4 linked regions of the Homo sapiens genome follow. The protein of the gene in region 4 interacts with the protein of the main gene of each other region in a pairwise test. Each region holds a gene or a part of one and is shown on either strand. Other genes may lie near its edges.

Region 1 (3,500 bases), on a different chromosome or scaffold from region 4:
CCTAGGCTACAAACCTGTACAGGATGTTCTTGTACTGAATACCGTAGGCACTGTAGGCAGTTGTAACAATAGTATTTGTGTATCTAAACACGAAAGGTACAGTAAAAATATAGCATTATAATCTTATGGGATCACCATTTTTCTTTCTCTTGGAATCACATTTCTCTCTCTCTCTCTCTCTCTCAACATTTCTCTCTCTTTTTGATGAGGCCTCACTCTGTTGCCTAGGCTGGAGTGTAGTGACATGATCAGAGGTCATTGTAACCTTGAACTCCTAGGCTTATTGTAACCTTGAACTCCTAGGCTTAAATGATCCTCCTGCCTCAGCCTCCCAAGTAGCTGGGACTACGGGTGTATGCCACCACATCTGGCTAATTTTAATTTTTTACTTTTTGTAGAAACGAGGTCTTGCTCTGTTGCCCAGGCTGGTCTTAAAGTCCTGGCTTCAACCAATCCTCCTACCTTGGCCTCCCAAAGTGCTGGGATTACAGACATGAGCAACCATGCCCAGTTCCATTTTTATTTTTTAAGAGACAGTCCAGACTTGCATTGTCGGCCAGGCTGGGGTGCACTGGTGTGATCACAGTTCACTGCAACCCCCTAGGCTCAAGAGATCCCCCTACCCCAGCCTCCCAAGTAGCTGGGATTACAGTCCTGAGCCACCACGCCTGTCTGGGACTGACATTTTATATGTAGCCTGTTATTTTTATTTATTTATTTATTTTTGAGACAGAGTCTCGCTCTGTCACCCAGGCTGGAGTGCAGTGGCACGATCTCGGCTCACTGCAACCTCTGCCTCCCGGGTTCATGCTATTCTCCTGCCTCAGCCTCCTGAGTAGCTGGGACTACAGGCGCCCGCCACCAGGCTCAGCTAATTTTTTGTATTTTTAGTAGAGACGGGGTTTCACTGTGTTAGCCAGGATGGTCTCGATCTCCTGACCTCGTGATCTACCCGCCTCGGCCTCTCAAAGTGCTAGGATTACAGGCTTGAGCCACAGCGCCCGGCCCGTAGCCTGTTATTAAACGAAATGTCATTATGCAGCACATGACTGTAAATAAGTGAGGTGGTTCAATATTGTGCAGAGATATTTTTCCTGTACTTAATTTATAAGTAAATTTAATATAATTTCAATCAAATGCCAATTGAATTATTTTTTGGAACTAGAAACATTTATTCTAAAATCCATAAATATAAGCAAATAAGAATTGTTTTTTTGGTGGGGGGAGTTAATGGAACAGAACCTGTATTATGGATATCAGCAACTAAAACAAGATTATATTGGCAAAGAAATGGAGAGAAAAGATATATATGAGTATCTAGATATACTCATGTATATATGGATTTTAATATATGACAAAGGTGGCCTTTCAGTTCCATGGGAAACAGTGGTGGTACTGGGACAGGTAGCTCACTATTTAGAAAGGAAAAATGTAGCAGGCTCCTTTGGTTGGCAGACTTCTATGATGATCTCATGAGCTTGTTAACTGTCCTCACACCCTTGTGTAATCCCCTCTCCTTAAGTGTGAGCTGTCCTAGTGACTTGCTTCTAACGAACAGACTGTGGCAAAAGTGAAAGAATGTCACTTCATGAGTAAGATACAAAAGATTGTGACTTCTGTCTTACTAGTAGACTCGCTGTCTTGGCTTTGATGAAGTAAGGTGCCATGCTGGAGAAGCCTGGGTGACAAGGATCTGAGGGTGGGCTCTGGCCAACAGCCAGCCAGGAACTGAGGCTCTCAGTCCAACATAACTTGACAAACTGAATTCTGCCAACATACATGTGAACTTAGAAGCAGATCCTTCCCCATCTGACACTTTATATGAGACTCAACTTCTGGCCAACACTCCAACTGCAGCTTTGTAAGAGACCCTGAGCAGAGGGCCCACCTAAGCCATGACCAGATTCTGGATTCACAGCAACTAAGGCAACAAATGCTTGTCATTTTTCCTCCCAATGGAATGGTATTTTCCCAAAATCTTGCAGATCAGTTACAGCAAACAGAACTATGACCATCAAGGAAAACTGTCACTCTTGGCTTCTTTTTGACCACAGCAGCTACATGGAAGCAGCTGCAGCTTTGATAAAGGCCATAAATGCTTGCTATTTTAAGCCAATAAATTTTGTGATCATTTGATATGCGTAATTGAAAATGAATGCAGGCCAGGCATGGTGGCTCAGGCCTTTAATCCCAGCACTTTGGGAGGCCAAGGCAGGCTTGGGCCCAAGAGATCAATACCAGCCTGGGCATCATGGTGAAACCCCATCTCATCTTTACCAAAAATACAAAAAAATTAGCTGGGCATGGTGGTGCATGCCTGTAGTCCCAGCTACTTGGGAGGCTAAGGCAGGAGGATCACCTGAGCCTGGGAGGTCAGGGCTGCCGTCAGCCACAATCGTACTACTGCACTCCATCCTGGGTGATGTGGTGAGATCCTGTCTGAAAAAAAAAAAAACCCAAAACACAAACAAACAAACCCAAATGTAGTTCCTTACCCTCATCATACACAAATTTCAATGTCGGGCAGTATTGAATAACGAACACTGGGTTGACTAGTGGCCCCCAAAAAGATGTCAATGTGGGCCAGGTGCAGTGGCTTACAACTGTAATCCTAGCACTTTGGAAGGCCAAGGAAGGCACACTGCCTGATCTTAGGAGTTTGAGACCAGCCTGGGCAACATGATGAAACTCCATCTCTACTAAAAATACAAAAAAAAACCTAGCCGGGCGTGGTATCGGGCGCCTGTTATCTCAGCTACTCAGGAGGCTAAGGAACAAGAATTGCGTGAACCCAGGAGGTGGAGGTTGCAGTGAGCCGAGATGGTGCCACTGACTGCACTCCAGCCTGGGCAACAGAGTGAGTCTCTGTCTCAAAAAAATAAATAAAATATAAAATAAAATAAAAATAAAATAATAAAATAAAATATAAAATAAAATAAAAAAGAAAAATAAAAAAATTATTTTGGGGCTCAAGTTAGATTTTCTTGGAATAAGAACGGTGTTTTGTTTTGTTTTGCTTGTTTTATAAAAATGCAGCTTTGAGTGGAAGGAAAGGTTTACACTGCCAAAAAAATAAAAGTTTTGAAAGTCATGCCGACTCTTCATTTTTTTCCTCTTTACATGGAAACTTAGCTGTAATGAATATTTAGTTAATTCTTCCACTCTGCACTTTTTTCTTTTTAGACGGAGTCTCACTCTGTTGCCCAGGCTGGAGTGCAGTGCTGTGATCTCGGCTCACTGCAACCTCTGCCCTCCTGGGTTCAAGCCATTCTCCTGCCTCAAGCAATTCTGCCTCAGTCTCCCAAGTAGCTGGGATTACAGGTGCCCGCCATCACGCCCGGCTAATTTTTGTATTTTTAGTAGGGATGGGGTTTCATCATGTTGGCCAGGCTGGTCTTGAACTCCTGATCTCAGGTGATCTGCCTGCCTCAGCCTCCCAAAGTGCTGGGATTACAGGCTTGAGTAATAAACTAACAAAAGCTCTGAGCTACTTATAATTT
Region 2 (2,321 bases), on a different chromosome or scaffold from region 4:
TCCTGGCAGTTAGGAGTTCCTCAGAAGTTACAAGGGCCTGAGAAGCCCCGCTTAATCAGTGAGGGGCAACTGGTGCCTTCCTGACTCACCCTCATTCTCCCAAGGGCTGCTCCTTATCTTTGGAAGAGGTGGCCTACACAGCCCAGGGCCTGAGAGGTAACCCTAGCTGACACCATCATGGGATGGCAGACTTCCATTCCTGGCAGGGACAGCAAAAGCCAGCCTGGTTTCCAGCTTCCTGAGTGGGGGACACTGTAAGAGTGTCTTAGGAGGACCACAGCTTGGTTCCTACCCTCTCATCGAGTTGTCCCCCATGCTGACAAAGGACACATTTGGTTAGTGGTTGGGGATGAGCACCCTAGACAGGACAAGGCACAGCTGGCACCCAGCAAATGCCCCACCCTGGCTATTCCTGACAGCATGGTCTCCTGGGGCTTATAGCAAGTGGGATCTCCAGAGGGAATAGGATGACTGGAATTTTCAGCAGAGCCAGGCCTCTGTCCTCAGTGAGGCTCAACAATATGCCTGACATGGAGACCAGTTGGAAACAGAGCTATAGTGGGAACCTCAGTCCCTCTGCTCATGAAAGTGATTAAGTACATTCTTTGTGATTTTCTCTTCGTACTTTTCTTTTTGCAGGTATCCTGAGCCAAGCAGGATACTCCTCCTCAGAGGAGTAGGCAATAGAAGCGCCTGAACATCATGGCACAAGTGGACTCCCAGGACAGGTGGGGAGAGGCGTCTCCTCTCAGCAGCTTGACTGAGGAAGCTCATGACACCCAGATGCTGAGCATGAACTTAGAGAGTGACGATGAAGATGGTGGGGAGGCCGAAAAAGAGGGCACCGCTGACCCGGTGGCCTGTCCAAGGGGCAGCTCCCCAGTAACACACGAAAATCCTGACTTGCCATGGCCCCATCCACTGGGCAAAGAGGAAGAGAAATTCTCTGACTCCTCCAGTGCTGGGGGCATGGGGCAGAAACCAGTGGAAATGTCTGGGAAAGCCAGTTGGAGCAGAGATGTGACAAAGATCAACGAGACCCAGGGTTCCCCGGGAGCAAGCAGAGCTCTGGGTTCCCTTCCCAGTGGTCTCGCACACAAATTGTTAGGTCAGATGCAACCTCTTGGGGACCGACTACCTGCGGGTGATGATGGATACTCGGGGGCAAACCAGGACGCAGTCTTGGATGTCCCACCCAGCTTCCCCAGCAATGGAAAGTATCTCTGTGCGCACAAAAGTGTAGACACGTCCGCAGGGAACTCTTCTCTGTTGTGTTTCCCCAGGCCGGGGAGCAACTGGGACCTTCCCACGCAAGAGACACATACACCAGCCCAGGCGTCGGCCACCCCAGCCAGCCTGGCTGCCGCGGTCCTGGCAAAAGCGCGGAACAGCAGGAAAGTACAGAACCAGGCGGGCCGGCGCGAGGGCGGAGAGGCTGAGGCGCGTCCCTACAGGTGCCTGCGGGGCGGGCGGGCCTTTCAGAAGCCCAGCAAGCCGCTGAGCCCCGCGGAGACGCGCGGCGGCGCCGCCAAGCGCTACGCGTGCGAGCTATGCGGGAAGGCCTACTCCCACCGCGGCACACTCCAGCAGCACAGGCGCCTGCACACGGGCGAGCGGCCCTACCAGTGCTCCTTCTGCGACAAGGCCTACACCTGGTCCTCCGACCACCGGAAGCACATCCGCACCCACACAGGCGAGAAACCCTACCCGTGTCCAGACTGCGGGAAGGCCTTCGTGCGCTCTTCGGACCTGCGCAAACACCAGCGCAACATGCACAGCAACAATAAGCCCTTCCCGTGCTCCGAGTGCGGCCTGACCTTCAACAAGCCGCTGTCGCTGCTGCGCCACCAGCGCACGCACCTGGGCGCCAAGCCCTTCCGCTGCCCCGCCTGCGACCGGGAGTTCGCTGTGGCCAGCCGCATGGTGGAGCACCAGCGCGTGCACTCGGGCGAGCGGCCCTTCCCCTGCCCCACCTGCGGCAAGTGCTTCACCAAGTCCTCCAATCTGTCCGAGCACCAGACGCTGCACACCGGCCAGAGGCCTTTCAAGTGCGCTGACTGCGGCGTGGCCTTCGCGCAGCCCTCGCGCCTCGTGCGCCACCAGCGCATCCACACTGGCGAGAGGCCCTTTCCTTGCACGCAGTGTGGCCAGGCCTTTGCCCGCTCTTCGACCCTGAAGCGGCACCAACAGATCCACTCCGGGGAGAAGGGATTCCTCTGTGCCGAGTGCGGCAGGGCCTTCCGCATTGCCTCTGAGTTGGCCCAGCACATACGAATGCACAACGGAGAGAGGCCCTACCAGTGTGAGGACTGCGGCCAGGC
Region 3 (3,500 bases), on a different chromosome or scaffold from region 4:
CTTTTCACGCACCTTGCTCCCATCCACACGTTAATACCTGTTTCTGCAGCTTGCAGACTTACTTTTTGCAAAGAGCTGCGAGATGGTTTTTCTGGTGTCCTCTGACCCCTCATATTCCTTCTCTGCAAGCTGCTTGTTGGCAGTCTCTAGACGCTCTGTGAAATTTGGAGACAATCAACAGGGTCTCAAATGTAAACTTTCATGCACATACTATTGGCCCTCTAAATACTGACCTTTGGTAAAACAAGCCTGTTTCTTCTTGTTAAACAGGAATGGGTGACTAACATGAGTTTGCAAATGTGAATCCCAAAATAATACTAGACCATGGCCGGGGAGGAGGAGGTAAGTATTTAATGCTTTCACTCCTCACTGCCAAAACCTAAGTTAAGTGCAGAATTCTAAATTTCAATGAAATTATCCATCCCCAAATATATAAAGATATCTTTCATTAACCAGAAAAAAAAGAGTATCACAGTTATTATAAAGTATTTAAACTCATGTAATGTCAAAGTTGAAAGGGACAACTAGCAGCATGTATTTGGGCCCCCTGACTTTAAAGATAAAATAACCAAAATTCAAAGATAGTAACATCCCTGGCCGGGCACAGTGACTCATGCCTGTAATCCCAGCACTTTGGGAGGCCACGGTGGGTGGATCACCTGAGGTCAGGAGTTTAAGACCAGCATGGCCAACGTGGCAAAACCCCATCTCTACAAATACAAAAATTAGCCAGGCATGGTGGCGCACGCTGGTAATCCCAGCCAGCTACTCAGGAGGCTGAGGCAGGAGAATCACTTGAACCTGGGAGGTGGAGGTTGCAGTGAGCCGAGATTATGCCAGTGCTCTCCAGCCTGGGCGACAGTGCAAGACTCCAACTCAAAGAAAAAAAAAAGAAAAGAAAAAGGAAAAAAAAAAGAAAGTACCATCCCCAAGGTTAGCAGTTTTGAAGGTGCTGAAGGCACTTTAAAGTAGAAATATTTCCCAAAGTCTTCAATATTATCAGGTGAAAGTCAAAAATAAAAGGAGTCAGTCAGTCCTGGAAATAAGAGAGGACATTATACTTCAAGCTTGCAGTCAAAGGGCACGCCTCTGTAAAACCTGTTAAAAAGAAGAGGCAGCACCTATTGTGGGGGTGGGCCAGGTGGGTCCAGGAGTCCCAGCAGGGATCCTGCCTGATTAACACATCAGCTCATTGCTCAGAAGACCAGTGAGGTACATCCACACTTTGATCAATCAAGCTTGGGACTGAGGACTATTGCAGTCACAAAAAATTAGCCTGGCACATGCCCAGCCATTTACTGCCCATACCGGTGGGTTGGACAACCCCAAAGAGCCTAGTTGGATCCTGCTCAGCCCTTCCCTTCACCACCCTGCAGCTGCTTCAGAAGTACAAAGACAAGTCTGTTGGTTCCCTCACCTCTCAGATCCCTGTTGAAATCATGCATCCTCCGAATCTCGCCCTCTAGCTTGTTTCTCATGGCTTTCTCTAGGGCCTCTCTTTTGGAGGATGACTTCACGAGGTTCTCATATGCCTCCGAGACGCGCTGGATTTCTGTCTCCACCTTAACAACAAAAAAAGACAATGGTGGTGATGGTAGGAGGGTGATGGGGAAAATGGTCTGAAAACAAACAGGCAAATCCTCGCTGACAGCTTCTCCCAGGGCTCACAGATGGCCAGGAGGCAAGCATAACACAGTCAGATGACACAAGTTTCAAGAAAGGATCTCCACCTTCAACCATAAGCTTAGTAATTAACTCATGGTGTCATGGTCTTTCCTCGGGTTAAAAAAATAGACAATTTCTGCCTTCAGAGGAGATGGTAAGATAGAATAAATTTTATAAATAGTTATAAAGGATTTTAATTTCTGAAGAAAACTCTTAATTTTGAAAATATTAGTAATAATATATATAGTATGTAGATATTCCAAAGCATTCAAAGGGCTTTCACATGTTGGTTCCAGTCTGCACTGATTATCTGCCTAGACAGGATACCTCTTCTCATTTTAGTAGAGAGAAAAGTCAAATTGCCTCTGAAGATCAACTGTCAGCAGCAGAGACCAACCCTAAAAACCCCAAGCTTCATGAAGTAGTTCAGTTCAATTTAACAAACATTTACCAAGGGCCAAATATTTACACGAACTCTTTAAAGTACTATTGGGGGTGTGTAAATATGAATGAGAACATTCTCACTGCCCTCAGGGAGGTTTCAATCCAATCGAATGAAAGACTATAGGGCAAGATACATCTTTAAGAAAAGTAGAAGTAGTGCCATAAAGTACAGACAAGGAAGAAGTTATTCCTGGTTGGGGAAGTGGGGAGGAGAACAATTTCTGAGAAGAGGTGGCATTTACAGTCAGATCCTGAAAGCTGGGTCAGATTTCAATGAGCAGAGGTGAGGGGAAGGGTATTCTATTCTGAGTAAGCAAATGCATTCCCAGAATGACCAGTCGTTTAATTTGGCTGGACACTGTGGGGTACGCAGAGGGAACCTGGCGAGATATGGCTGCTAAGATAGATTGGAGTCAGATCATAAAATGCTTTTAATGCCAGGCATTTGGACTTTATCCCATAGTCAATGGGAAACCAGTATAGGTTTTTGAACACAAAATCATAATCAGAGTTGTGTTTTATGACACCCCTGCAAATCTCATAAAATGGGGAAAATAAACTCAGAGAGAAAGGGTCTTCCCCTGAATCAGCCACAATCAGGCCGAAAATGAGAAATTAGACTCCAGAGTTTTTCTGTAACTAGTATAGCTCCATTGCACATATAATAGCCACACAGATATTTGCATATAATTTGTATAAGACAAATAAACCCACGGTCTATTAAGCAATTTTCAGATTAAATTGGACTCTGCAACCATTCTGCATTGCTTCTGTGTTTTCCACTATCCTGTTTAACAAAGCTCAGGGTACTTTCAGGGAAGAAATATCAGGCCCCTAATGGGACACTAGGGGAAAGGTAAGGTTGCCAAACCAGTCAGATTCAACCCGCCTCCATCTCCAAAATTCTGCCAGAGACAGGACTGCCTGCAAACAAATAAGGCTTATGCCACAGAAAAGAGCAGACTCAAAAGTGTTTTTCTCTTCACAGATGGCACCAAGATAGCAGCACAGAAGGTGAAAACTGGTGAATGGCATTTAGAGACAAGATCTGCAAGGCCTGCGCCTGATGAAGCTTTTGCATGAAACTCAAGCGCTGGGGAGAGAAAATAAACATTTCCATCTGAAAGAGCAGGCTTGGTGTTGGTCTGCTCTGGGCAGCATTTATAGTTCAAGGCTGTCCGGTTGTGCACAGAATGCAACACCTAGAAGGTAGTCCCTTTCCTCAAGGTGTGCAGACTGCTATTTCAAGATCTTGTACTAATCCTTCCCCTACCCCCTGTGTAGATACTCCATCCTTCAAAAGGGCAAGTCCCACAGCTCTCAATAGGGCCTTCCAGGAAAAGCCATCACAGAAGGATATATCCACTGGTTTGGGCTGGGTGATGGTGGGG
Region 4 (3,500 bases):
CACTCAAAGGAGCCTCGTTTTTAACGACTTGTTTGTGTCCTTACTGATTTGGTGTCAGGTTTAATATAAATAGTTGGGGCGGAAGAGCAGGAATTATCCTCAGAGGGCAGGACTCTGGTCTGAGTGGTTGAGGGGGATGCCTGGGCTTTTGACAATGGCTATAAATAACCTAGAGCAAAAGCAACTTGTTGGTAGGAGCACGTGTAAAATCCCCGGCACACAGACACACACACGCACAGTGTCGAGGTGTGTGCGAAGGGGGGTTGTGGGATTGGGCACTGGGCCCAGCATTTATTTTGGGGAGGAGAATAAGGTGCTGGGTGCACAGAGCCCTCCCTGTGTCCTCGCCTTTCTGCACGGGCCCTTGTGTGTCCTGCCCAAGGTGGGGCTCATCTGCCTCCCATTGGGCCCTCTGCTCTGGCCTCCCTTAAAAGAAGTCGGGCCCAGCAGATGGCCCTCTGCTGGCTCCGAGTGCTGCTTCCAGTTCTCTGAAAGAACTCGCTGATGAGGCCCGTTTTTGTGCGGAGCCATTGGAATCAAGCTTGGCTTCAATTATCAAAGAAAATGATGCCATAGGAAAGATATGCTGGAAGCAGTAGTCCACAATTAGAGGATGGAAGCTCTGGTGAGGGCAGTTTGCTAAGATCCACTTGTAAAAGTTTGCCTGTTTTCAAAAGGTCCCGTTGCCCAGTGCTGTTGGAGTCCTGGCCCCTTGCCGAGTGTCCCTTGATCTTGCCTTAGAAAATGCTTGTTGAAGAGGGTATTGCCTTTTGGGCAGTGACCTTGTGAGTAAATTTTCAGAGGGCTCTTGGAAAGCCCTGAACGCACAGACTTAGAAGCATATACTTTTGAAGTTGCATTGTTTTGAGAAGGGAACGTGAGGAGGAGGAGGAGGAAGAGGAAGAGGAGGAGAAGGAGGAGGACCCCTATGGTCAGTTCTGTCAGGTCAGTTCTGTGCTCCCTGCCTGGAGGCTCCCCTCTGGTTTATGGGGAGGGGCAGGGCCACAGCATCTCATTAAGAGGAGATAAGAACAGGATAGGGGAAAACAGAAAGCAGCCGGCACCTCCTTTCCCTGAAGGTTCCGGGGGTCTCTGCCACCTGCAGGCTGAAAACCCTTTGCTTACTGAGGTTGCAAACCAGGTCTGTGGATGTGAGGCTGATGCAGAAGCTGCAGCATAGGCCTCTACTCTGTGTAGGAATTTAAAATCCTTGCAGCAACTGGAAGCACAACAGTCCTGAGGAAATAAAGCATCTGGGTACAATTACTGTAGCGTGGTTTGAGTTTCCTCCCCCCCCCCCCGCCTTTTTTTTTAAGTAATCACAAGAAAACAGCCCCACTCCGTTTTCTTAAAATTATGTGGCACTTTTGACAAAGGTCTGGGTTCTGAAATACCGAGTCTCTGCCTCTCCCCACAACCCTGCCTCCTTTCTCTGCCCTGTCTTGTTATGATTGTGGGAAAATCCAAGTACTTTATTGCAGTCAACTGAGTTAAGAGCAGTATATTCCATTTTTAATTACTGGTCACACAGTAGTCCTCTATGTTGGAAGTGAAGGGAGACAAGTTTATTTTGGGATCCATGTGTTAAACAACGAGTGCAAAGCCGTGTGAGCACACATAGGGTTTGAGTTAGGTGTCTTTTTTGCTGGGAGGAAGGAATTTTCTATTGAGTCATTTTCTCCCCACAGAGGTTGAAGTATAGCTCTTACAGTGGAGACATGGTTGATGTGTTAATACCACCAAGATAGCAGGACTGAAGGCATGGAAGAAAGAGTGTTTGAATGCTATTTAAGGCTGTTTTGGCTTTTTTGGTGTTGCACCATGCCTGTTAAACTAAAAAACTTTTCCAGTGACCCATCTAATGGTCTTAGGTCCTTTAAGGAGAGTCAGCAAGGTTTTCAGTCACTGCCACGTGCCACTCACTACTTTCAGCGTCGGAGATTCGTGTGAGGACAGGGCTGTCCCTCATGGAGCTTACAGTCTGGTTTCACAGGACAGGTGTTCAACATGGAAACACCAGTGTCCAGTCATTATAGATCATGATAAAGATGATGAAGGAAATTAGGGCAGTTGAGAAAATGGGAGCTCTCTGGTTTTTTGTTTTTGTTTTTGTTTTTTTTGAGATGGAGTTTCATTCTTGTTGCCTAGGCTGGAGTGCAATGGTGTGATCTCTGCTCACCACAACCTTTGCCTCCCGGGTTCAAGCGATTCTCCTGCCTCAGCCTCCCGAGTAGCTGGGATTACAAGCACGCGCCACCACGCCCGGCTAGTTTTGTATTTTTAGTAGAGACGGGGTTTCTCCATGTTGGTCAGGCTGGTCTTGAACTCCCGACCTCAGGTGATCCACCCATCTCGGCCTCCCAAAGTGCTGGGATTATAGGCGTGGGTCACCGTGCCTGGCTGGGGCTCTCTGTTTTTGTTGGCACTCGGTTTTTTCTTGGAATTTTCCTGTGATTTCCCCCAAATTACTGTGCCTTTGTTGGTTCATTTGGAGGACCTCAGAACTTGGTGCAGAGGCCATGATCCAACTGCCTGCTCTTCAGGTGGGTGCCCACCTCTGGAGGGGTTGTGACTCAGCCCAGCAGTGAGCACTGCAGCCAAGCCGGCAGCAGTGCCCAGCCTCTGACTTCTGGTCCCTACTGAGAGTTTACAGAATGTGGCCTCATCACTGGATTCCTAACAACAGGAAAAGGCCCCAAGGAAGTCATCGTGTGCATCCTGCTTCAAGGCAGTATCCACGCCTTACTTACGCACCCAGATGGCTGGGCACTTTGGCCTGTTTTAAAGACTTGGGTGATTTCACAGCCTGTCCCCACCTACTTTATGGATTTCCTCTGACCATTTAGAAGTATTTTTTTCTCTCTAACTTTTGAAGTCTATTTCCCCTTGTTCTTCCTTTAGTGGGGATGCTGAACAGAGAGTCCCCCTTCTCAACTACGAGGCCTTTTTCACTGAATCAACCTTCTCTTCTCCAGAAGAATGAACTGTTCTTTTTACTCTCACCACTCCTCTCTGCCCTTGGTGTTGGGGAATTCCGGATTGAGGACACATGGACCAGGAGGAAGGCCTGGAAGATCTTACCGTTCTCATTTAATTTTCACCAAAAAAATCCCAGGAGGTCGTGAGACTTCTTGCCCTCTACAGATATGAGAACAGGGTCAGAGTGTCCAAGTGACGGTCACAAGTCACTTGGTCAAAAGTGTTGAGGGGTTCATGTGCAGTGCTCCTGGTCTGCACCTTCTGGTCAGTTCTATGCCTACAGCATATTTCTAAGATCTGACTTGATGCAGTCGGACAGGATCCAGGGCACAGCTGTGGTCCGGCTCCTCTGGCCAAGTCTGACAAGGCCTTTGGCCCACATGGTGCTAAGTTACCTCCTTGGGTGGTTGTGATGATTACAGGGGTCCCTTCTGGCTTAAAAAGTTTATGGCCCTGTAACTTTTTGTGTGTGTTTGGTGACTCCAACAAGCGCAAACTCCTTAAAGGCAGAGACTGCCTCT

Evidence for each region.
Region 1: the proteins of AXIN2 (region 4) and PPP2R5A interact in binary tests that used the Homo sapiens proteins (3 or more experiments, as listed by UniProt).
Region 2: the proteins of AXIN2 (region 4) and ZNF648 interact in binary tests that used the Homo sapiens proteins (3 or more experiments, as listed by UniProt).
Region 3: the proteins of AXIN2 (region 4) and AMOT interact in a two-hybrid assay, tested with the Homo sapiens proteins (one large-scale study listed by BioGRID).

What each region holds. Positions count from the first base shown.
Region 1 is NC_000001.11:212,351,410-212,354,909, reverse strand, and holds part of PPP2R5A (serine/threonine-protein phosphatase 2A 56 kDa regulatory subunit alpha isoform), read right to left. Parts: intron 2,093-3,500; exon of another isoform or gene 1,960-2,092; intron 1-1,959. UniProt on the Homo sapiens protein: The B regulatory subunit might modulate substrate selectivity and catalytic activity, and might also direct the localization of the catalytic enzyme to a particular subcellular compartment.
Region 2 is NC_000001.11:182,056,392-182,058,712, reverse strand, and holds part of ZNF648 (zinc finger protein 648), read left to right. Parts: intron 1-639; 5' UTR 640-702; coding exon 703-2,321. UniProt on the Homo sapiens protein: May be involved in transcriptional regulation.
Region 3 is NC_000023.11:112,809,832-112,813,331, forward strand, and holds part of AMOT (angiomotin), read right to left. Parts: intron 1,563-3,500; coding exon 1,418-1,562; intron 156-1,417; coding exon 63-155; intron 1-62.
Region 4 is NC_000017.11:65,551,649-65,555,148, reverse strand, and holds part of AXIN2 (axin-2), read left to right. Parts: intron 1-3,500. UniProt on the Homo sapiens protein: Inhibitor of the Wnt signaling pathway. Down-regulates beta-catenin. Probably facilitate the phosphorylation of beta-catenin and APC by GSK3B.